Homo sapiens: one gene and its partner. The protein of the gene in region 1 purifies or fractionates together with the protein of each later gene. This does not show direct contact. Each region holds a gene or a part of one and is shown on either strand. Other genes may lie near its edges.

What was found.
Region 2: the proteins of FBXO15 (region 1) and HINT3 purify together in Homo sapiens (affinity purification with mass spectrometry; 3 studies listed by BioGRID and IntAct, with this or other methods). This does not show direct contact.

Annotation. Positions count from the first base shown.
Region 1 is NC_000018.10:74,120,489-74,133,068, reverse strand, and holds part of FBXO15 (F-box only protein 15), read left to right. Parts: intron 1-2,410; coding exon 2,411-2,653; intron 2,654-3,454; coding exon 3,455-3,664; intron 3,665-4,292; coding exon of another isoform or gene 4,293-4,416; exon of another isoform or gene 4,417-6,960; intron 6,961-6,967; coding exon 6,968-7,094; intron 7,095-8,497; coding exon 8,498-8,580; intron 8,581-9,558; coding exon 9,559-9,701; intron 9,702-10,049; coding exon of another isoform or gene 10,050-10,231; exon of another isoform or gene 10,232-10,477; intron 10,478-12,580. UniProt on the Homo sapiens protein: Substrate-recognition component of the SCF (SKP1-CUL1-F-box protein)-type E3 ubiquitin ligase complex.
Region 2 is NC_000006.12:125,964,954-125,977,533, reverse strand, and holds part of HINT3 (adenosine 5'-monophosphoramidase HINT3), read right to left. Parts: intron 10,648-12,580; coding exon 10,530-10,647; intron 5,276-10,529; coding exon 5,206-5,275; intron 2,688-5,205; coding exon 2,561-2,687; intron 1-2,560. UniProt on the Homo sapiens protein: Exhibits adenosine 5'-monophosphoramidase activity, hydrolyzing purine nucleotide phosphoramidates with a single phosphate group such as adenosine 5'monophosphoramidate (AMP-NH2) to yield AMP and NH2.

The DNA of each region.
Region 1 (12,580 bases):
CAATATGTGTTTTTGAAAAGTTTACAGTGTATTCTAAGCGTTACTTCTGAAGAGAGGGCAAGCACACATAGTGTAGTGAGTTACACTGATGACTTATGGGCAGGCACACTTGAAGGGCAGGGGGCTCCCCAGTGCCCCATCCCAGCAGCGGGGCTACTCCCTTCTGTGTGAGCCCTGTCTCTGCGTGAGAAAAACAGGGGTGTGTGGATGAGGTGACATCTGGTTTATCACAAGGGGGTTTTATTTGCCATGTACTCTGGCAAACACTATTTATCTGAACATTAAATTGGCCCCATTTTCTAAACAACTTGTTTGAGTTTCCCTGAGCCTGTTGGTAGTTCTGTTGGATAAATATGCCCTCGTCCTCGAATCTGACTAGGCCTTCTAACAGGATGGAGCATTTGGGGATCAAGAAGTAAATGTGTTTGGAGACTGTGAAAGGTATCTGAACCTTAACATTTGTATATTATAAAAAATCAAGGGGAACCATCTGCAATATAAAATGTTTTCACTTAGGTTCACTTACGGTAAGTAATATATGATCATGTATGTGAACATAGTTCATCATACGAATGTTAGTTGTGGTTATGGTTACTCACTGCATGTGGAGTTTATGCTGTGATTCCCATCTCTGCGGCAGTGTTTGTTTTTGCAGTTGGTAAGTGCTAACACATGTAAAAATAGTATCAGAGGTTGTTTAGATAGTGCTGATGTGAGGAATTCAAGGCTCCATAAAGGTCCTGCTAAAGGAATACTTACATAGGGTGAGATGCTGAATAAAATAAATGTGAAGAAAACACAAGCAAGCTTTTATGCAAAGGGAGTTTTAAAAGTGTCTATTCAAAGGATTTTGGTGAAACAGTTTCAGCTTTACTTAAATGTACTCAACTCATCATCGCATTGCATCTGTCCGCTTACATAGGAAAGTCTAGAAATTTCTGAATTGAAAACACAAACACTTTAATATAAAAGCTAGGCATGAAGTGATTTTGCAGAGTGAGAAATGACTGAGAAACCCACACTAGGAAGAGAATTCAACCAGGGTCTGACTGTATGTGAGCTTGCATTTGTTGGGAAGTCCATGTAATGTCTGAGTCAAGGAGGTGGTGTTCCAAAGTCACGTGTTTGAGAAATGGTCCTTTTCTGCTGTGGTTAAGGAAATAGCTCTGCCTCCCCAGAGCACCCAGTTATCCCCAGGGGTCCTGCTGCAGTTCAGGACCACTGCTCTGTGGGGGAATCGCTTTTTCCTTGCAGCCTCCAGGCCGTTGACTGCTTCATCCCATGCTGCTCTGAGTAGTAATGTGGAGACCTAAATGAGCAAATCATTAATGTTTAAAATGCAAAGTTTGCCTTTCAGATAAGGAATTGATTTTAACCGCTGCCTCAGTTTTCCCTGTGTCTTCCTTCTCTTTCCTGGTGGAGAGTACTGGCTGAGAGGGAGGAGCTCTCAGGCCAGCTCACTGCCACCACTCGTGGGGCTTCTCCTGCCCTCTTAGTAGAGATGAGTGGAAGGAACAGACTTTGAGTCAGAGCTGAATTTGAATTCCAACATTGAGGCTTATTGGCTCTCTGAATTTGGGGAGCTTATTCAGTTTCTTTGACCCATTTCTTTGTGATTGAAGAGGCAGTGAAACCCAGGTGATAAGAGTGTGAGCTCTGGTTCCGATCCCAGCTTCACTATACACTTGAGTGCACAGACCTGGGCCAGCTCACCTTGCATCTGAGCCTCAGTTACAGCATCTATGCAGTGGGGACAGGAATACCAGCACCTCCTGGTTTCTTTCTGAGGAATAAATGAGTCATGTATAATACATAAAGTGGTTAAACGATGCTTGACACATAGTAAGTGTTGACAAAATTTAATGTTAACTATTGTTTAGTTGTTACCATTAAAAACCTTCACTTTTTTTCTCTTTGTGAAAGCGTATTCCTTGTTGAAAGTTAAAAAATAGCAAAAAGAGTGTTCAATTCCATTGTTCCCTATTGAAATTTCTTGGTGTGTGTACATACATCCTTTCTGATCTTTTTAAAAGCATGTATGTATTTAAAAACAAGAATCATACTACATATACTTTCTGTTATGTTTAAATAATATATTTCCTATTCCATTACTGGTATAAGAGGGCAGTCGTTTGGATGATCCTAAATAACGTGAGATTACTCACTTGAGACCTGACCCTGGGAAATGGGCTTTTCCTTTTTTTAAAATGTGTTTTTGGTGGTGTTGAATTTAAAACACTAAATCTCAAACTGCAATTCACTTTAACAGATGAACGTTCAACTGTAAATATTCAGCTTGGCTTATTCATGGAATTGGATTATTTGAAAATATGCATCTCTAATTTGATATATTATGACTAAGGTAGGTGACAGTGTCTCTTAGTTAACATATTTCCTCTTTTCCCTCCAGTTTTATTTGGATCGGAATCTACTCAACTGCTTTTTCACCTGCAAGATCAAATTGGAAATTTAATTCAGTAGAGAAGATAGCTATGTCTATGAGCTTTCTGTCAGTTCAGGATAAAGAAGCTGGTTATTGGAAGAAAGAATATATCACAAAACAAATAGCATCTGTAAAAGCCGCACTAGCTGACATTCTCAAACCTGTCAACCCTTACACAGGCCTTCCAGTTAAGACCAAAGAGGCCCTCAGGTACGCAGTGTGTTCCAAAAGAGAATGATGGCATCAGCTCAAAGTATCGTGTACGTAGGACGTATGTGCAGTTTAGATTGTGTGGGACTGTCTCTAGTATTTTTGTGTGTTTTGTGCATCTATAAAATATGTATCATTTTCCTATTCCGCATAGCCTTCTGCATCTGCTGATTCAACCAACTGCAGATCAGAAATATTAGTGGGGGGGAACTTGAAACAATAATAACAGTATAAAAAAGAATACAAATAAAACCAGTACATTATACATAATAACAACAGTTTGCACAGCATTTACATTGTATTAGGTATTATAAGTAATCTCAAGATGATTTAAAGAATACGGGAGGAGGTGCATAGGTTATATGCACATACTATGCCATTTATATAAGGGACTTGAACGTCCACAGATTTTGGTATCATGGGGTTCCTAGAACCAATTTCTTGCGGAGACAGAGGGATAACTAGTAAGTAGCCTAAAGTTTTAATGAAAAGCAGAAGTAACCTACTTATCTGCTATAGTACAATAAGAATGTTCAAGGTCTCTTTTCTGGGCAGAACCTTTGTCTTATTTATATATTGCCAGTACCTGGAAAATCATGGATGTTCAGTGGGTGTTAGGTGAGGAGAAAAAGTCTAAAGAGAGTACTATTGTTGAAGTGAAAATTATACTGGGCACATTCTGAGAATTTTGACTTTGGCTTTTAAGGAACTAGATGCTTTAGAGAAGATACATGAAATTGCCTTTAGCATTTTTTTTTTTTCAATGAGGCAAACATTGTTAGTTTTTTTTTCTTTCTCCAGAATATTTGGTTTAGGTTGGGCAATTATACTGAAAGAAAAAGGTGGAAAAGAATATATCATGGAGCATGTTGATCTTTCCATAAATGACACATCAGTTACTGTTATATGGTATGGCAAAAAATGGCCATGCCTAGCATCATTGTCAACCTTAGATTTATGTGGCATGACACCAGTTTTTACCGACTGGTATAAAACTCCCACCAAACATAGGTAAGTACCAATCAGCAGAACTGTTGAGTGAGAGCATCTTATATGTAAATATTAGTTGGCATTACTTTTGTAATTAAAAAATAAGAGCAGCGTTTTTTAATTTTATCACATATTAAATGTACATTCTGCATTAATGCAGAAGAGGAAAAGAGTGCATTTTATCACATTTCTGATTAGGTCTAAATTTAACTTCCTCGTATCTTGGGGTTGTCTTTAATGGTAAAGAATGATGTTCTAGTTAACAAAATTTCCTGGATGATTGATGGCTAACCTTTGAGGTTTTTCATTTTAACCATCTTAACAGAAAGATATATGTTATCTTCCTTCTTTAGTAAATGGTATACTAATCATAGTCTAAATATGAGGAAACCAAGTCATAATTATGAGTTATTTTGTCTGCCTTCTGTTGAACTTACTAGATATGTGATCTTGTGCAAGTAACTTACTCTTTCTGTGTCTCCATTCTCTCCTCTATGAAATGGAATGATCGTTATACTGGCATAGTATTTAGCATATATGACTGCAATGAATAAGATCGATCAAAAGATATCACTATAAAATGCGTAGATCAGCTAAGTGTGCAGCACATGGGTAATGCTTAGTGAGCCCTTTACTATTCTGTTGTCAGGTGGCTTTGCACTGAGTCCATACTCACTATGAGGCTGGCATTCTGCCTTTCTGAGCAGCTCTCTCGGGCTGTCTTTTTCATCATTGATTGCTTCCTCCTAAAAGCTGGATTATGGCATGCATAGCATCCTCATCTCTGGAGCAAGCTAACATAGCTTTATATAAGATATATTGCAAATATAAAGGTAATACCTGCCTTCTCCTGCGTTGGTTTCCTGCCCTCCCATCTCCTTCACTGTCTCAGTATTCTTTGACTTTTCAGGAGTATTTACCATGTCGTTTTCTTACCATCCTTGCGTGCTGCAGTTCCACCCATTGGTTTCTCTCCTGTCTGTCCTTGCTATGGAGGATACTGTGATATCTGACATTAGTGCCTGCCATCTCTATGGAGGGACAGGGTTCTTTCATGGTTTCCCTGGATACAGACACTTTTTTTTTTTTTTGCAGCTCTGTAACTGGGGACCTTGTTTTTGGCTCCTCTCCATGGCGCCTGCTCTTTGAGCATTGTTTTAGTGATTACTGAGCTCTCTTCCCATGCTCTGAATGTAAGACTATTCAGACCTCTTGGTGCTGGCAAATCCAGGTTTTATTGTACTCTAAAAATATTCTTAATGTTATGATGAAAAATGAATTATTTTTCCTAAATATATTACTGAAGATACTTTGGAAACAGTTACCTTTTAAAAAATGGTACTTTTATTTGGATAAATCTTTGAAATTTCATACGGGATCATGAAGGAAGCCAGCTTTTTCTAATGTAGTAATTAGGCTTTATGCATTTCAAAATTACGTTTGGAGAACAAGTCCACAAACTGTACTAGTTTTGCTAAACAATATGTTACTTGGCATATCATGAAATGTTACTTACAGATATTAGGACAAACTGGCTAACATTAATTCAAATGATCCTGAAGAATTAAGTTAAATGGATAATGTTGAATTATAAAGCTCAGTTAAAGACAGTATTTCCCTGAAATGGTCATCAAGGTCAGAAGTAATAGATACTACATAGTGCCCAATGCTAGAATTCATTGGGAAAATTCATTTGATGTAATTTATTTCTGTGAAACTTCCATGGACTCCAGCCAGCCTTTGATCAACTGTGATAAACAAAACTAAAAGTGTTTTTTAGGATTTGTTTTGATCGGCACTTTTATTGCAAGTTTGTAAGTGAATGCTTTCATTGTGCAGGAATATAAATCCTTGTACGCATCTGTGTGACAGCCAAAAAGAGCCTTTGTGATTTTTATTTGGGTCTTTTTTGTTTCCTCTATGAGAAGTTTTTCAACAACAGTGAAAGCCTCATTGATGTAATCTGGATTTCCCTGTAATTTATACCTTTCTAGTCAGACTCCAAATTTTCTTCCTTGCCAGCACTTTCTGCTCTGCAGCTTGTGCTGTCCCACCCTAAATTTGTGAGAACTGCTGGGGAAACGTCAGCCTTAGTTTCTGTGTCTGTGGCTGTAAGGCCAAGCACATGAGGACTCAGCACATTCCCAGAGTCTATTTAATAAGTACCTCTACAGCCAGATTTTCAGAGAAGAAGGTTTCTCACATCCCCACCCAGCCTCCTCTATCCACATTAATGATACTAGCAGGGACTGCGATTTATTGAGCACCTGCCCCATGCCGTGTGCTCTTGTCCCCACTCAGCAGGCTGGTGATTTCATACACAAAGAACCAGCCTGTGATAGTCGCAAAGTCACTGTAGGTTGAAGCTAAGGTTTTACCTCAGGTTTCTCTGACTCCACAGTGAGGTTCCTGACCCTGCATTTATCCTCCTCCAAGTGTATTCTGCATATGCTGGGTTTATTTCTAATTTCTACATCACACACGTTCACCGACCGTCTCTCCTTACCCAGTTGTTGTTCTCTGCACAAGAAGTTATTTTGAAGAGCTGAACATGGGACTAGGGTCATGTGGCAGCTGCGGATCTGGTTTTGATGCTTCACAGTCCCTTCCACTTTGAAGCTGGACTGCAGCTGGTGTCCTTTTTAACTTATTTATTTAATGTACCTTTGAATTCCTATTGCCTGCTGGCTTGTGCCTGAGGTGCTGGGCACCAACTGTTGAATGAGATGTGGCCCCAGCTCCTCAGGGATTTCAGTCTAATGCTGTGTTAGTGTCTCCTTTATGAAAACACTGGTGATTTAGTTTAAGTTTATTTCTGATGTGTCAACTTTCACTATCTCTGAGTTATCCTTGATGATAACTGTGAAAGGCCCATCTGCTTTCCAGCCATCTCCTGAGACCACCCGTTCTTATGTCACTTGAAATAGTGTATCTTTGCTTCTGTGTTGTTTTACTCACTTGACTAGGAATACACATTGAGAGTCTACTTTAGATTGTATTGTGCTGGATTTGGAGGGAATAGAACAGGAGACAATGCTGCCACTTCATCACTTTCCTGGTCCTTCAACTTCCTCCCGGCTGGGTCATTGAGTTGACAGTAAGAGCAAGACGGAGGGGAAGAAATACCTAGTTGGCTTGGAAATCTGAATGTATCCATTTTGCCTTTTATTCATTTGTGTCCTCACCCTGCCAACATGCCACTTAGTTTGAGCACATCATTAACATGCTCTTCAAACACATTTGTGATACACTAAAGAGAATTGACAACACTATGGACAGGAAAGCTCACTTCTCTCTCTCCTTTCCTTGGCATAACGTTCAAAGACTCCGATGGCATTCTTTAATTGCAAAGTACAATCTGAGTCATTTGACCATATCTACCATGATTGGCTGTGACAGACTCATTCGGATCTTCTGCCTGCACCCTGGCCTCCTGGTGGGAGTGTGGAAGGTAAGACTTGAGTCCCTGTATGTACTGTGTCATTTCCCCATCACAATACCACATTTACTTACCATTATGTATGACTTCAAATGTAAAATCCTTTAAGCTTTTCACTAACTGCAATCCATTTTACCATCTCACCAACTTCATTTTTTCAAGCTAACATGGCCCTCTCTGTTCCACCGAGGCTGCTGTGCTGTTCTGCTATGATAGACAACTCTGCTATCTGTTGTTCTGCTGTTCTGCTATCATAGACAACAACCTCTTCCTGCCTTCATGTTTTCCTTCATGTTATTCCTTTCATGTCATGTGGCTTTCCCACTTCCAATCAGTCCACGTTCCTTCTTCTCTTCCTTTCATGCTCTTTCTCTGACAACATTTCCCTTACTATGTGTTCAGCACGCTTGTCTCCCAAGCCTGTTTCTGATCCTGTAGGTGCGGCATTGAGTGAAATCTGCTCTTCAGGGTCAGCTGTCTACGATGTTATCCTTTCTCTCTGCATAAGATTTCTCGTTTCACCAGGTCTGGCTGATATTTTAAGATAGTAGTTCACAAATCTGTTTCTGAGTTGGCGTTATGCATTAGTTTACAATGACTAGACGGGATTAAGACCCTAGCTTCAGACAACACCATCCTCATCCCTTTTCCTTAGCCAACTGTGGCCGTCACTTTTTCTTTCCCTCCTCCCCTTTCTGTGTGAAGGTGGCTTGTGGGCGAGACCGCAGCTTGCCTGCTCTGCATTCGGTGACTCGCATGCATCCAGCTTTGTTGGTTGCAGAGTTGTGAGCACTCTGGTGGCTTCGATTGTCCTCTGCCTGGCTACTGGAGAGTGGCACCTTCAAATTTACCATTTGGGGGTCACCTATGCCCATCAGTGTCAGCTGTGAATCTGGGGAGAAATGGAGGTCAGTCCCCAAATAGTCGCATTTTCTGCTATTCAACCTCATGGACAAGTGAAGAAGTTGAATCTAATCATTCCCACCACGTTGGCCAAATCAAGCAGTTACTTGCAAGAGGAACATTGTGTCAGTAAAGTTCAGTATTTGTAGAATTAATCTGGTATCTGTGAAAGTCTTTGAAAGGAATTTGAAACAGCCTGGAACTAACTGCATAGTTTCACAACTATCATATATATCTTTTGATATTTCACAAGCTCTAGGCTGTGAGTTCTTTTGGTCCTGTGTGCTCTGCATATTTGGGTGAATTGTGGTCCTGCTGTCAATATGAAATATAAGTCTTATTAGATAGTAGTAACATATTAGCAGTAATAATGCATTAGCACTGTGGTGATCTTATGTTTGTAAGAAAGTGCCTCTATCTGCAAGATGAATGTGCTGTGATCTTCACAATGATCTTGTGAAAAATGTAAGCATTTTGGTTGAAATATGTATTCTTCTCAATTAACTTTTCAGAAGGAGGAAGAACTGGCTTTTGTTATGGCAAATCTTCATTTTCATCACCTTGTGGAGAGGAGCACATTAGGCTCGGCTACTATGTATGTATTTATATGTGGGTGTGTTGAATTTTTGTACAGTAAATATAAAGTATTAGAAGTTGATGCCATCTTAATATCCTGAGAATAGCTGCAGAGATATTCTGTTTTTAATCAGTAAACACAAACCAACAGGCACAATTAGCTGTCGCTAAAATAATTGGATTATTCACGAGTACATATTTGCTTTATTTATTCTGGGTCAAGGAATTTGTACCTAGTAGGTTGTTATTTGTATGGGTAGGATAGCTTGATTACTTCAAGATGCCACTACTGTCCTTCAAGTTCTTGCTCTTATGTGAATTTTCACATCTTGTAAGGCATGTAGACTCATGGCCCTTGGGCTGAACCTGGCCTGCGGATGATTCTGTCCGGTCTGGACAGTGTGTGTCTTTTAATGAATTTGCGCGTCTTTAGGTGGCGCACAGGCTTCCCATTTCACTACAGCTCTCACCCTTTTCCTGTGGACTTAGACTCCCTTACTCATTTTTTTTTTTTTTAATTACCTGAGAAGCTCCTGAGTATTTTTGAGTTTGTCACCTTACGTAGTCATGTTTTTCTTGTTGAATAAAACTTTGTCTTGGCTTTGGGTCTGCCTGGGTGTTTGTCCTGCAGATCGGTATTCAGTGCCTTTTCCTGCTGAGCACTTTTGTCCCCTGGACACTGAGAACAACACGGAGGGCAGAGTGGCTTTTATAGAGTGGCCATGCTGGGATCAGCTGCAGAAACATGTGCACCCGTGCTGGGCGGTGGCTGCCTACAGAACTCACATCATTGCCTGTTTTTATAGAAGTTGGTAAAAGTAACATTGAGCAGTCTTTTAAGTTCACAGTATTGAAGATTATAGGGAATCCTATGGAGTTTCATTTGTAGGAGGTAGTGCTTTGATACAGATGGTAATTTTTTAAAAAGTATTTTCAAACCAAGAATTTTATCCCTGGTGTTGACAAATTTGTATGTTTCTTTTGTTTTGCTTTTCAGCCCCTATGAACTGCCTCCACATAGCCCCTTTTTGGATGATAGCCCCGAGTATGGACTGCACGGCTACCAACTCCATGTTGATCTGCACAGCGGTGGGGTTTTCTACCTATGTGGTACATTTCGCAATCTCTTCACCAAGAGAGGTGAAATTGATTGAGTTTTTATTTCATTATGAAATTAAAGGTTGAGGTGAGGGAACCAATTTTGATGTCCGAGTTAAGAATTGCCCTCACTGGTCACTTTATAATCTTTTGGCACCAGTATCCTCCCAGACCCGTGTGTCATCCCAGGGCTTGTGAAAGTCCTCACTGGACCGAGTCTCTTCAGAACTGGCTCTGTCTCCTTCACCACCATCACTCTCAATGCCACCTTCTGGGGGTAGCCCCTACTCATCTTCTCTACTGATGCTTCCTTATTATTTTTCCATGCTCTCTGCTTTCCCCAGACTTCTTCCCTTCTTTCTTAAAGGAATGTGGTAAATTTGCCAGCAGGGCCCGTGCCGCTCCAGGATGAGAGTAAAGAGAAACCAGCCTTTCTCCTCTACGTACTGCATCACTGTTTGCCACACCTACCAAAGCCAGGACAGAGGCTGGGGCAGACAGAGGAAAGGAGGGAGCTTACGCCAAGCAGGAAAAACGAGGGAGTGGAGAATGCCCCATTCTCACTTATCTGATTATTTCCTTTTGGTTTCATTCTACTGTAGCCTGTAAACTTGGAGTTTCATGTAAGGACTTGCTTAGATTCAAGTTTAACATTTCTGGTAAAAATATTTTAAAAGGGAAGTTATGTACTTCATTTTGCATTATATTGAGAGGTATATAATGTCAGGTTGTCCCATTATTAGTAATGCCTGGTTTTATCATCTGGTTAAGATGGTGACCACTAGATATCTTCATTATTAAAAGTATTCTTTTCCAAATATCCTGGTCCTCCAAAGTCTTTCATCTAGTGGACTTGACACTCATTAATGATATGTGCCTAAATCAAATATTTTGTTTAAAAATGTTGATTTTCTAATTATGTCACTATTTCTATATTTATCAACTGAGATTTTGTAAAGAACTTTCTCTTATCACCTGGGTGAACTTCTATAAAGGCAGAGCAAATGCTTAATTCTTTCCTTTTAACTGCCAATTTTCAGATGAAGAAATTGATGTTACAGAGCACAAGGGGCTTGCTGCCTAATGTGCTGGAACCCAATACTGTGACAGCAGGTTTTTGAGAAAGGAAAAGCTTTTTATGGCTGGCCCACTGATAAGGAGACAGGAGTCCAGCTCAAATCTGTCTCCTCATGCTGGCTTTAATGCAGTAATTTTATTAGAAAAGGTGTAGGGAGTGGATTCTGGGATTAGTAGGTGATCGGTGGAAGGAAAGGGAGGTCTGGAAAGTCCTCAGGCATGGCGCAGTTACCTCTTCATGCCCTCGTAGGTCACTTGCAAATTCAGGAGGAGTTAATATGAAACATGTGGTGGGAATTCAGGCTGTGATGTCAGAAAACTCCATCTGTGAAAACTCCAGTTGGCCATATTGGTTCCGACTGATTTCAGCCAGTTTTATCTTACAAGTGGAGGGCGTTTTATTATTTTAGTAAGTTGCCTCTTTTCTTATCTGCCATCTTGCAAACTCAAGCATTTCTGTTAGTCATTAGCTTCTTTAACTCTGGAGCATGGTTTCACTGAGGCACTAGTCATCTCCTGTGGTGGAAGAAATGTGAGCTCTTCTTCTTTCCTCCTCGCCCCCACCCTTGTTTAATGTCACTTTGGACTCTTGGATATTTATTTATTTAATAATTTATAGTCAGTTATAGACATTTCTTTTTGAAGTTACTTGGTCGGTGGGATCTGCTTTGGGCTGCTTCTGTGTCCTGTAGATATCCTCTTTGTCTTTGAGTCTTCCTTGCTTTTTGGCTCAGGAAGATTGCTAGGTTTTCTCGCGTTTGTTGGCATTTTTATCAGAATTATTCAATTCCACATATTAACCTGAGGTATAGTAACATCTATGTTGTTGAATTGTTCCATCCAAGAATGTGGAACATCTTTCAGTTTGTTTAAAAATACTTTTATGTCTTTGAGGAGTGTTTCAGAATTTTCTTCATGCTAGTTTTGCACATTTCTTGTTAAGATATTTATGAAGTATTTAATTCTTGTTACTTCTCTTTCGTTTTATCTTCCAGCTGTTTTGTGATTTCTTTGTGAGGTTTTGGTCTCATAGAATGAATTGGGAAGTATTCTTTCCTCTTGGATTTTTTGGAGGATTTTGCATAGAATTGGTAGTATTTCTTCCTTGTTTGGTAGAATTCATCCAAGCCTGGACCTTTCTTTATGAGAAGACTTTTAACTACAGTTTCCTTTTCTTTCAAAGAGATGGAGCTATTTAGGTTATCCATTTCTTCTTGAGTCAGCTGTGGTATTTTTTGTCTTTTAAGGAATTTGTCCATTTTATCTAAGTTGCTGACTTTATTGGCATAAAGTTCTTCGTAATAGTCCCTTATTATCTTTTTCATGTCTATAGAATCTAGTGACATGATGTGATTCCTGATATTGGTAATTCATGTATTTCTGTATTTCTTTTTTTTCCTGATCAGTGTGGCTGGAAGTTTATCAATTTTATTCATCTTCTCAGATACCTAACTTTTGGTTTTATTGCCTTTTTTTCTGTATTATTTTGTTTTGTATTTCATTGATTTGCATGTTGATTTCTATTCTTTCTACTTTTTTTCTGCTTATGTTGTAATTTTCTGTTTTTCTAGTTTCTAAAGGGAGAAGTGGAAATTATTGATTTGAGAACTTTCATTTTATCATATTGAGACATTTGGTGCTATGAACTTCCACCTAAGTATTGCTTTAGTGGCATCCCACAAAATCTGATATGTTTTATTTCATTTTCATTCACTTTAAAATACTTTCTAATTTCCTTTTTATTTCTTCTTTGATATATGGGTTAGATAGAAGTGTGTAATATAGTTTCCAAATATCTGAGGATTTTCTAGAGATCTTTCTGTTACTGAGTTCTAATTTAACTC
Region 2 (12,580 bases), on another chromosome or scaffold:
TTCTGTTCCTAAAAATATCTTACAAAAAAACTCAGTATAATATCTATATATAATTATTCTACATTGTATGTAAATAGGCAGATTGTTGCCTACATTGCAAATTCATTAACAAGTTTCAAGAAGAAAAGGAAAATAAATATAACACTAAAGTTTTAAAAAGTAAAATAAGACCTGAAATGCATATTACTAAGTGAAAGAAGCCAATCTGAAAAGGCTACATACTGTAGGATTCCAACCATATGACATTCTGCAAAAAGCCAAACTATGGAGACAATAAAAAGATCAGCAGTTGCCAGGAGTTAGAGGGGAAAGAGGGATGAATAGGCAGCATACAGAGGATTTTTAGAGCAGTGAAACTGTTAGGTATGATGCTATAATGGTGGATACATGTCCTTATACATTTATCAAAACCCACAGAATATAAAACCAAGAGTCAACTCAAAAGTAAACTATGGACTGTGGTGATAACAATTTATCAATGGGGTTCATTGATTGTAACAAATATACCACCGTGGTGTAGGATGTCATAGTGAGGAAACTGTACATGTGGAGGGGTAGGGGGTGCGTGGGAACTCTGTAGTTTCCACTCAATTTTGCTGTGAACTTAAATCAGCTCTAAAAAATAAAGTCTATTTTTTAAAAAGGTAAACTAAAGTCTGTGAGTTACATCATTTCAGTGTTTTTCTCAATCACACTATATAATCTGGATCATTATATAAGATTTTGAAATTAACTTCAATATCTTTATCTTGATTTTTTTCAAAGTCTCATAAGATACGCTAACAAAGTCAGATTTAAGAAGAGTTCAGATTCTCAGGATAAACCAACAACATATTTTATAAGATGTTTTCCAAGTAAAAAAGTATTTCCTATAAGAAAATACAGTCAAAACATTACAAAAATGTATTTTCATTCATCTTTTATTATAAAGGTATAGCTCTTATAGAAAATTAGAAATACAAATATAAAAAAAAAGCATTTTCTATTACACAAACTTTGCAAAAAAAAAAAAAAAACCCAAACCAGCTGTCCGGCAGAATATCCCACTTTTTAAAATTTCAAATACATACACACACACATACATATATATGTATCTTATATATTATTTAATTTTTTATTATTTTTTGAGACAAGATCTCACTCTGTCACCCAGGCTGGAGTGGAGTGGCATGATCACTCACTACAGACTCAACATCCTGGGCTCAAGCGATCCTCCTATCTCAGCCTCCCAAGTAGCTAAGACTACAGGCATGCACCACCATACCCAGCTAATTTTTGTATTTTTATATTATTTAAATGAAATCATCTGGGCAACAAGTTGAAGACAGGGATAATATGTTTGAAATATGAAGTTTCTAGAAATCAGACACTTTTTAAATTTTTCTGTACTATGACTAGAATAATACCATTCATTAACTAATGATAAATAAATACTATTGGATGATTATTCAGATATGGCAACTACAGATCACTTTGTCATCATGGACACATAAAATAACACCCTGGTAAATTAGTGGTCAATTGGCCTTAGAGGGACCCCAGAGTCACTTAATATCTAAGGGCTGACTTTCAGACCACAGGTGTATAAACAGCTGAACTCTACTCCACTTTTGCTTTGGAAAAGCAGAATGCTGTAATTTTTTAGACTCAAAACTTCAGGCCAGGCACAGTGGCTCACACCTGTAATCCCAGCACTTTGGGACACCAAGGCGGGTGGATCATGAGGTCAGGAGATAGAGACCAGCCTGGCCAACATGGTGAAACCCCATCTCTAATAAAAATACAAAAATTAGCTGGGCATGGTGGCATGCACCTGTAGTCCCAGCTACTTGGGAGGCTGAGGCAAGAGAATAGCTTGAACCCGGGAGGCGGAGGTTGCAGTGAGCCAAGATTGCACTACTGCACTCCAGCTTGGTGACAGAGTGAGACTGTCTCAAAAAAAAAAAAAACAACTCTTCAGCCACAGATCTGATAGGTGATGCTACTACTACAACTCTTTTCTAAGGAATTTGAACTATCAAAAACTACAAAAACTCAATTTCTACAATGATGTTGATGATACAATAGAGGTAGCAGGTAACATTTCCTGACACTTACTATTTGCAAGGTACTGTTTTAAGTGCTTTTCACATAAGTTACCTCATCAACTCTCTTATCAACCCTAGGTATAGGCACTGTTACCTATATGCAGGTAATAGATAAAGACCTTGAGCCTTAAAAAATGTAAGTAACTTTCACATGGACCCTCAAGCAAGCACTGCAGCCAGAATTTGAATCCAGATCTGACTCCAGAGTCAGAACTCTGAATACCATGGTTCTTCTATATCGTATCTGCTACTTGCAATGGGGAAGATTTAGCCATAGCTTCTCTTCCTACAGACTGATGATCTTCAAAATCCCCCAAATTAAAAATATTATTTTGGATATGTGCAAGCAGTATGTTAAAACAGGTAATCAAGTCTATGAGAGCTGTAAGTGCCTACTGTTGAGAAGAAAAAACTACAATGAAAAGGATATTTTAAATATTTTTGTATGCTGCTGACATAACAAGAATACTCACTGTGATAAACCAATAGGAATTGACTCTATAAACCAACTTGGATAAGAAGCCAAGCTGATCCACTGGTGCCAGAACATGAAGGTGCAAGTGGGAAATGGAACAGAATGGTGGCATATGAAAACCCATCCTAAAATAGAAAGTAAAGAGATGATTGACAAACCAGTTCTAAAATAAAGTCATTTTTCAGGTGAAAACACATAAATTTTAATGAGATCCAAAATAAGTACCTAAGGTAAATAGACTGTCACAAATCTCATTAATGTTTCTCTTTATGCACTTCAGAGGATTCACACACTTCCTCTTCTTTTCATGTTGAAGTTCGTAGTAACATAAGCTCATCATCAAGGAAGGCCTTAACAGCATATTACGCCTCAATATAATCTTTATGAATTCTGAGTTGGCATAATGTCTTATCACTTCAGTCTTTATCATCGTAAGCTTTCATTCTCTTAAAATATGCTCTTGCAATGAATTTTTAAAAACATCACTGGACACTCAAGTAGTCGTGTTCCTTTATTCAATACATAGCCAGTAGATGGCACACTTTTTCCTTTAATAAAGTACTCAGACATTTCCCACCAAACCAACAATATTTCAGTAGTGAGATTAATTATGTCATCATAAAAAACTTTCGTCATCACCCAGGTTTCTTGTTTAATACTTAAAATAAGTTAGATGATAATGATAATTATGTGCTTCCTAAAAGATACACAAGAATTCCTTTAAATGGTTACAAAGTTTTTAAAATATGATTTAAACTCTTAAAAATAAGCTTACAAAAATTTTTGCAAGTCCACCTATGCTCAGCAGAGCAACACACACCTGTAACAATAATCAAAGCCTAGAAATATTTGCCTGTTCAAGGTATCAGTGAGTGGAAGTGTGGAAAGGAGGCATAGAAGTGCTATACTGCAGCAGTGATCCTCTGGGACTAGCAATGTGGAGTCAGATATGCAGTACATACTTTAAAATTTCCACCACCACCTAGAAGAGGAGACTAGGTTTTCCTTCTGCCAAACAGTCATATAATGTAGAATCAAATAATCTAGAAGCTTGAAGCAACTCAAAGGTTCACTCAATCTTTTCATCTTAAAGATGGAGAAGCCATGATCCAGAAAGTTTAAAATATTCCCAAGGTCCCAAAGTTAGACAGTCGTGGAGCTGGAGTTGAGACTCAGGGCTCTCAATTCTTTGTCCAGTGTTCATTCTTCTAATAAGTATCCTATGACTGTGAAGGAAATGTGTGGCTTCTGGCCAAAGGGTCTCAAACACCATTTGTTCCTTGTCATTATCACACTTGGTAATACTTAACAGTTTTTGGAGGATTTTTCACACAGAGAATCTCATTTGCACCTACCAGCAGGCAGAGCAGGTATTATCTTGGAGAGGCTAAATGGCATGTCTAAACTAATACAGACAGTGTACGTAGAGTACACCACAAGTAGCATGGATGGCATTAGAATTCAAGTCTATTCTGAATTCTAGGTCAAAAGTGTTAGAAGTAATCTCCATTATACCTGCTTGGGTCACAGAAGCAAAATTGGAAACCTTTTAAAAAGAAAAACATTACTTAGACAAATTAAAACATTTGAAAAGGCCCGGCGCAGTGGCTCACGCCTGTAATCCCAGCATTTTGAGAGGCCAAGGCGGGCGGATCACTTGATGTCAGGAGTTCGAGACCAGCCTGGCCAACATAGCAAAACCCTGTCTCTACTATAAGAAATACAAAAGCTAGCCAGGCATGGTGGCATGCACACACAATCCCAGCTACGTGGAAGGCTGAGGCAGGAGAATCACTTGAACTCCGGAGGCAGAGGTTGCAGTGAGCCAAGATCGCACCACTGCACTCCAGCCTGGGGGACAGTGCAAGACTCCGTCTCAAAAAAAAAAAAAAAAAAAAAAAAAAAAGTTGAAAAATTGAACATCATGTGCTTACGCCAGAGTTCAGCAGACAACAAATTCAAGTTAATTTCACGTTAGAATTATAATCATGTGTTTTTAAATCATATAAAATTTTTCTAAGAAAATTCAACTTGCATACAGTTTTATAGGAATGCCCATATTGAACAAAGAAAAGTAGATTTGCTGGGTGTGGTGACTCACACCTGTAATCCCAGAACTTGTGTGAGGCTGAGGCAGGAGAATCACTTGAGCCCAGGAGTTTGAGACAAGCCTGGGCAACATAGGGAGACCCTGTCTCTACCTAAAAAATTTTAAAATTAGCCGGGTGTGGCAGTACTTGCCTGTGGTCCCAGCTACTCTGGAGGCTGAGGTAGAAGGATACTCAGTCTGGGAGGTTGAGGCTGCAATGAGCCATGATCACACCACTGCACTCTAGCCTGGGCAACACAGTGAGATCCTATCTCAAAAATTTTTTTTTAAAAAGTAGACTTGTAACTATTTTACCTACCCACTGCCCATATAGACTTGTCTGTCCAAACTTCAAGTGGAAATTATTGGAAGATATTGAGACACAAGAGGAAGTTTTATTACATTTATACTACCAATGAACTATATTCTCACTTTCAGGAAAACTACATTTAAACCACAAACTGCCACCTCTGTTTCCATTTTCCATGGAGAAATGACATTTTGAAAAACGTCAATAATGTATAATATTGGTTTCCATCTGGAAGTATACACACCTCACATTCGTGAAGTCAGTGAAATTATTTCTTTCAAGAATGGTTTTTCCAACAGTTACCATGTTCTCAACTGTAAAACAGAAAAGACACAACATTACACTAGAGGAGACATTAAGGTCACAAATTGCCATTGATCTTCACTCTTGTCCTATCAAATGGGTAAACATTTAAAGACACATTCAGGCCAGGCACAGTGGCTCACCCCTGTAATCCCAACACTTTGGGAGGAGGATCACTTGAGCCTAGGAGTTTGAGACCAGCCTGGGCAAAAAGGTAAGACCTCGTCTCTAAAAAACATTTTTTAAAAAGTAGCTGGGTGGCCAGGCGCAGTGGCTCATGCCTGTAATCCCAGCACTTTGGGAGGCCGAGGCAGGCGGATCACGAGGTCAGGAGATCGAGACCATCCTGGCCAACATGGTGAAACCCCCATCTCAACTAAAATACAAAAAAAATTAGCCGGGCGTGGTGGTGCACACCTGTAGTCCCAGCTACTCGGGAGGCTGAGGCAAGAGAATCACTTGAACCTGGGAGGCAGAGATTGCAGTGAGCCGAGATTGAGCCACTGCACTCCAGCCTGGTGACAGAGCAAGAGTCTGTCTCAAAAAAAAAAAAAAAAAAAAAAAAAAGGTAGCCAGGCATGGTGGTGCACACCTATAGTCCTAGCTACTCGATACGTGGAGGCAGAAGGATTTCTTGAGCCCAGGAGGTCGAGGCTGCAGTGAGCTATGATTGTGCCACTGCACTCAGGTCTAGGTAACAGAGTGAGACCCTCTCTCAAAAATAAATAAATAAAATAAAAAATAAAGACATTCAGTAGCTTTAAGTCACTGAGAAGTTTGCTTATCAACAACTGAAATAAAGTTTCAAATTGAGCCTCAGTGCAACATCACTATCACAAAATCTCACAGATAAGTAGACTTTAGGACAGCTGGCTATTTAGGACATCTGATCATATGAGGACTAACTCTCATCAAGAAGACCAAGTAATTAAACAGAAATTGTTTGATTTAATAAGACAAGAAAACTTTGAATTTGTCTTTGAGCCCAAATTAAGGATATGGTATCCCTTCCAGTCAGCCTATCCTTGACTAGCCAAAAATTTGTATAATGACTCTGGCTTCCAAATTCCATCTCCTTTATCATCTTTCTTCTCTTGGTGTTTTATGGCCTTCAGGTGGGAATAAACCTGTCCACCAAAAAAATTTTGGTCACCTGGGATCTTCAAAGCACCATGCCAAATGTTAGGCCTCCATAGTTTCTAAATGGTGTAATCATGTATTTGAAAGACGAAGAAGTAAAAACATCTACAGAGGATAGCTGATATATTGAGACTTACAAAATCATTGTTAATGTTTACTTCTTTAAGTCAGGTTTGAGCTGGGAGACTGCCAGCCTTCCAAGACTAGGTCAGTACCATAGAGTCCAAAAAAAAGCTCCAAATTACTTCAAGCCAGACTATATCTTTTTTTGGAATTTTTTCTTTTTCTAATTTAATTATACTGTCTTTAGAGAACATATTTATAAGATTTCAATCATTTGATATGTATTGAGCTGTATTTTATTGCTCGGAATATGGTCAACTTTGGTGAACATATGCTTTTTAAAAAACATGTATGCTGTATTTAAGTGGAGTTCTGTAAATGTCAATTATAGTCATATTCCTTGATAGTGTTCTTGAACTCTTCCATATGCTTATTATTTCCTCAACTTTATCAATTATATAAAAATTATTAATTTGCAACAACTTTTAGTATGGAAATATTCAAATATAACACAAAAGCAAAGAGGAAAATGTAATGGAATCCCAAATACCTACCAGCTGCTTCAAAATTAGCAATATTTGATTTGCAACATTATAAAAACTAGTTATAACAGCCTCTATTCTCCACTTCTGCTGAATATAAATTGAAAAATTCCTAAAAAGCTAAAGTGTGAAACCCAAGAAATAACTACAAGAATGAAAATAAAAACTTTTAATAAGAAAGATGAAATGTTTCAATCAGGTAAATCTAAATTGGATCTAATTGTTATAAGCTCAAATGTACAGTACAGGGTACTGTAGTTATAAATCATATATGTTCTCAAATGTACTGATAGAACTTCAAATGACTAAGGAACTTAGCTGTATTCAGAATCGACAGTTTAAAAATTGTTAGTTAATTCACTAGCCTAAATATTAATGAACTACACATCAAGGTTTTCCATTAAAGTGGTTTCTTACCTCTTAAAAATCTAGCCCAATTGATCTATCATGTAGGCTACCTTAAAATATTGATCAAACTAATCCCAGAACCTCATGACAAAGCCTTTCCAGATTTCAGAAGTCCTAGCCAGAGCAATCAGGCAAGAGAAAGAAATAAAAGGCATCCAAATAGGAAAAGGAGTCAAACTATCTCTCTTCACCAACAATCTGAGTCCATACCTAGAAAACCCTGAAGACTCCACCAACAGGATCCTGGAACTGATAAACTACTTTAGTAAAGTTTCGGGATACAAATTCAATGTACAAAAATCAGTAGCATTTCCAAACACAACACTCAAACTGACAGTCTAAATCAAGAACACAATCCCATTTACAATAGCCACACACACACAAAAATACGTAGGAATACAGCTAGTCAAGGAGGTGAAAGATCTCTACGAGGAGAACTATAAAATGCTGCTGAAAGAAATCATAGATGATACAAACAAATGAAAAAACATTCTATGCTCGTGGACTGGAAGAATCAATATTGTTAAAAAGGCCATACTGCCCAAAGTAATCTATGGATTCAACACTACCAACATCATTTTTCACACAACTAGAGAAAACTATCCTAAAATTCATATGAAACCAAAAAACCCAAGTAGCCAAGACAATCCTAAGCAAAAAGAACAATGCTAGAGGCATCACGTTACCCAACTTCAAACTATACTATAAGTCTATATAACCAAAACAGCATGATAGTGGTACAAAAACAGACACACAGACCAACAGAACATAACAGAAAACCCAGAAATAAAGCCACATACCTGCAGCCATCTGATCTTCAACAAAGTTGACAAATATAAGAAATGGGAAAATACGCCATATTCAGTTAAATGGTGTTGAGATAGCTGGTTATCTATATGGAGAAGAATAAAACTGGACCCCTACCTTTCACCATATACAAATATTAACACAAGATGGATTAAAGATTTAAATGTAGGACCTCAAACTATAAGAATCCTAGAGGAAACCCTAGGAAACACCATTCTGGACATCAGCCTTGGGAAACAATTTATGACTAAGTCCTCAAGAGCAACGCAATAAAAACACAAATTGACAAGTAGGACCAAATTAAAGAGCCTCTGCACAGCAAAAGAAACTATCAACAGAGTAAATGGATAACCTACAGAATGGGAAAAAGTATTTGCAAACTATGCATCTGACAAAGGTGCAATATCCCGGATCTGTAAATAAATTATTAAACAATTAAACAACCAAAAATCACCATGAAACAATGGGCAAAAGACATAAACGGACACTTCTCAAAAGAAGACATACAAGAGGACAAAAAAATATGAAAAAAATGCTCCACATCACTAATCATCAGGAAATGCAAATCAAACCCACAATAAGATACTATTTCAACACCAATCAGAATGGCTATTTTTAAAAAGTAAAAAAATAACAGATGCTGGTAAGGCAGAAGAGAAAACATAACACTTACATGCTGTTGATGAGAATGTAAATTAGTTCAGCCACTGTGGAAAGCAGTTTGGAGATTTCTCAAAAAAATTAAAATAGAACTACCATTCGACCCAGCAATCCCATTACTGAGTATATATCCAAAAGAAAACAAATTATCCTACCAAAAAGACACATGCACTTGTATGTGAGTCACAGCACTATTCACAACAGCAAAGGCATGGAATCAACCTAGGTGCCCATCAGCAGTAGACTAGATAAAGAAGATGTGGTACATATATACCATGTAATACTATGCAGCTATAAAAAAGAATGAAGTCATCTCCTTTGCAGCAGCATGGATGCAGCTGGTGGCGATTATTCTAAATGAATTACACAGGAACAGAAAACCAAACACTCTGTGTTCCCACTTATAAGGAGAGGGTAAACACTGGGTACTCATGGACAAAAAGATGGCAACAATAGACACTGGGGACAACTAAAAGTGGGAGAGAGAAATGGGGGCAAGAGGTGAAAACCTAACTGTTGGGTACTATGCTCACTACCTGGGTCACAGATCATTTGTATCCCAAACCTCAGCACCACACAATATACCCACGTAATAAACCTGCTCATGTACCATCAAATCTAAAATAAAAGTTTTATCTAAATCTTCAAATCTAAACCGTCAAATCTAAAATAAAAAATTATCTTTTTTAAAGGCAGATTTGAAGTAAGCTTAGAAATGTCTTAGAAAATGATAGGTGACAAGCCACAGAAGGCATGAGTAGGAAAATGAGCAATCATCCTTAATAGACAAGATTCAGAATCTCCTTTTCAGAAGCTAGAAGTTCATCACTAAAAACTCATAATTAAATTTTGGTGCTAATTCATCTTCACAGGATACTATAAGGCAGGTACCAACATGATCTCACCATAAGGCAATATGAGCTCATTTGTCATATCGTAACTTGTTTGTTTATAATTTTTCATAGCACCTTTCATTTCAGAGTCAAGAAAGTCCATCATTTAAAAAGTCATAGAAATAGGCCAGGCACGGTGGCTCACACCTGTAATCCCAGCACTTTGGGAGGCCTAGGTGGGTGGATCACCTGAGGTCAGGAGTTCAAGACCAGCCTGGCCAACATGGTGAAACTCCGTCTCTACTAAAAATACAAAAATTAGCCAGACATTGTGGCGCATGCCTGTAAACCCAGCTACTTGGAAGGCTGAGGCAGGAGAATTACTTGAACCTAGGAGGCAGAGGCCGCAGTGAGCCGAGATTGCACCACCGCACTCCAGCCTGGGTGACTGAACAAGATTCTGTCTCAAAAAAAAAAAAAAAAAAAAAAAGTCATAAAAATATATTATCTTTTGGACAGTTTAAATGTTAAATAGCATGATGTCTGGTTTATGCTTCACAATCACTGTGGGAAAAGGTTAATGTATTTTTTAAAATTGTCCATGAGTTCCTAAATGTGGAGGCTGCATAATGAATACACGAGTATTATACTATTTTTTAATGAATTTAAAATTCTTTATAGTGAAAATTTCAAAAAGTCATAATGCTCCTTTTTCACAGTACTTAACTAGACTTTTTCTTTTTAATCTTCACTGCCATCACTGATACCAACTGAAAATGATATAAACATGAAGAATACTGCCATCATCTTACCCAGTTCTACTTGATCTTTCCTTAGAGTTCTGCAGTTTCCAATATGCTTCTTTGGCACCACAAGATAATGATGAGTTGCTGCTGGTTTGATATCTTTGAAGCAAATTAGGTCCTCATTCTAAAGGAAAAAACATTTGTTAGTGAATTTTTAAAAAGAATTTCTTAATGCTGTTCTGGCATGACTTAAATATCATTAATCTCAGTCTGACAGGGAAATGATACTTATGTTACACCTAACCCCCACTGGGCAATTTTATAATTACGCATTAAGTTCATAACACTTCCTTCATGAGATGCTTATTGATTCCAGAGAATAAAAAAGACACATAAAATCAATTTTGGGGAAACAATTATGAGTAAAGTTCACTAAAATTTCATTACCAATAATCTCAGAGTTTATTATTTCATTACACATTTCTCTATCCCTACCCTAAAGTTTTTTACCTTGACACATATTTTTAAAGGTTTGGCTACAGAATCACAACAAGATAGATAAATTCCTTTCTACATTTAATTTTTTTCCCAACGTAGCATTTTCCTCAATTATAAAAAGAACACCAGCTAGCATTTACATGTCCAGGGATTGCATTTTTTAAACACTTTTTAAAGCAATTATATCCAAAGACTTTTTTACTTGCCACTTTACAGTATTAAAAAGACTGAAATGCTGAAACAAATTCCAGTATATTGTACTAATTTATGGGACCACTACACTACATGTATGGCATCAGTTTTCTGGTTTACATTACCCCACACAGTAATCTACAGAAAAAAGAAAAGGAAAGGAAGAGCGTGTTTCAACCTATTAACATTTGAATTTCGAACTTTCCTAAAAGAAAATTTATATTCACTAAATAACCATATTAAATATCTGATAGTGAATATCTTATTCAGTATCTTATACTGATTTTAATTTTTACTTTACATTAAATAAAAATTAATTAAAATCAGTGTAAGCAGAGTTTCCCTTAGAAAAAATCCATGAATGCAATGCTGCTCAATAGTTCTCTGTTCCAAGAGCCAAAATTCAATTCAAACAAGTGCGTCATATCCATTCCAGTAATCCTGGTTATCCTAAGATAACAAACATGATAATTATATATCAATTTTAATCCATTTCTATCATTTTTATTATGGTTTTTCTGTCTAGTATTAAAATTAAAAATTGATATCCATGGAATGTTTTAGAAAAGGATAAGGTCAAGGACTACACTGTTTTTTATTGTTTAAAATTTTCCTTTTTTCCTTTCTTTCAGACAGGGTCTCTCTCTGTAGCCCAGGCTGGAATGCAGTGGCACAATAATGGCTCACTGCAGCCTCGATCTCCTGAGCTCAGTTGATCCTCCCACCTCAGCCTCCCAAGTAGCTGGGATGCACATCACCATGCCAGGCTATATATATATATTTGTAGAGATGGAGTCTCCCTATGTTATCCAGGCAGGTCTCAAACTCCTGGACTCAAGCGATCCTCCTGCCTCAGTCTCCCAAAGTGCTGGGATTACCATTATTTCTTTAATACTTCCAGCTCAGAAACAATTAAAATTGGGGGTTAAATCTAGTACAAGAAAATTGCCACAATCCTACTTCCCAGATTGATTCATAACACAATAATGTTATATATCTTTATTTCCCCTCAATTACGGCATTAATTTTTTAAAATCCAGAGGTAATTCTGGTACAGAATACAACCTGGTTAGTTTGAGATGATGTAGCTGTACTCTACCTCACAGCAGGAATGACACTTCTTTAGATTAACAGAACTAGCAAGTGCCAGTCTAATGGCTAGCAGGAGAAAAGCTAAAGCGGTTCCTAAAAATCTGCTGTCTCATACTGCATAACTTAGCGATAAGAATGAACCAAAATGCTTAGTTTTGTCTTCCAACCTCTATATTGAAAGGTTTTGGTTACTAACTCTCATATATCAATAATTTATTTTCCCAATCTTAATTAATTACACAATCCCAATCCTAATAAAAACTACCAATCAACATGACTCTTATCACCAGGAATAGATAAAATTCCTCTCAAAAATATAGAAACTTGATGTTTTA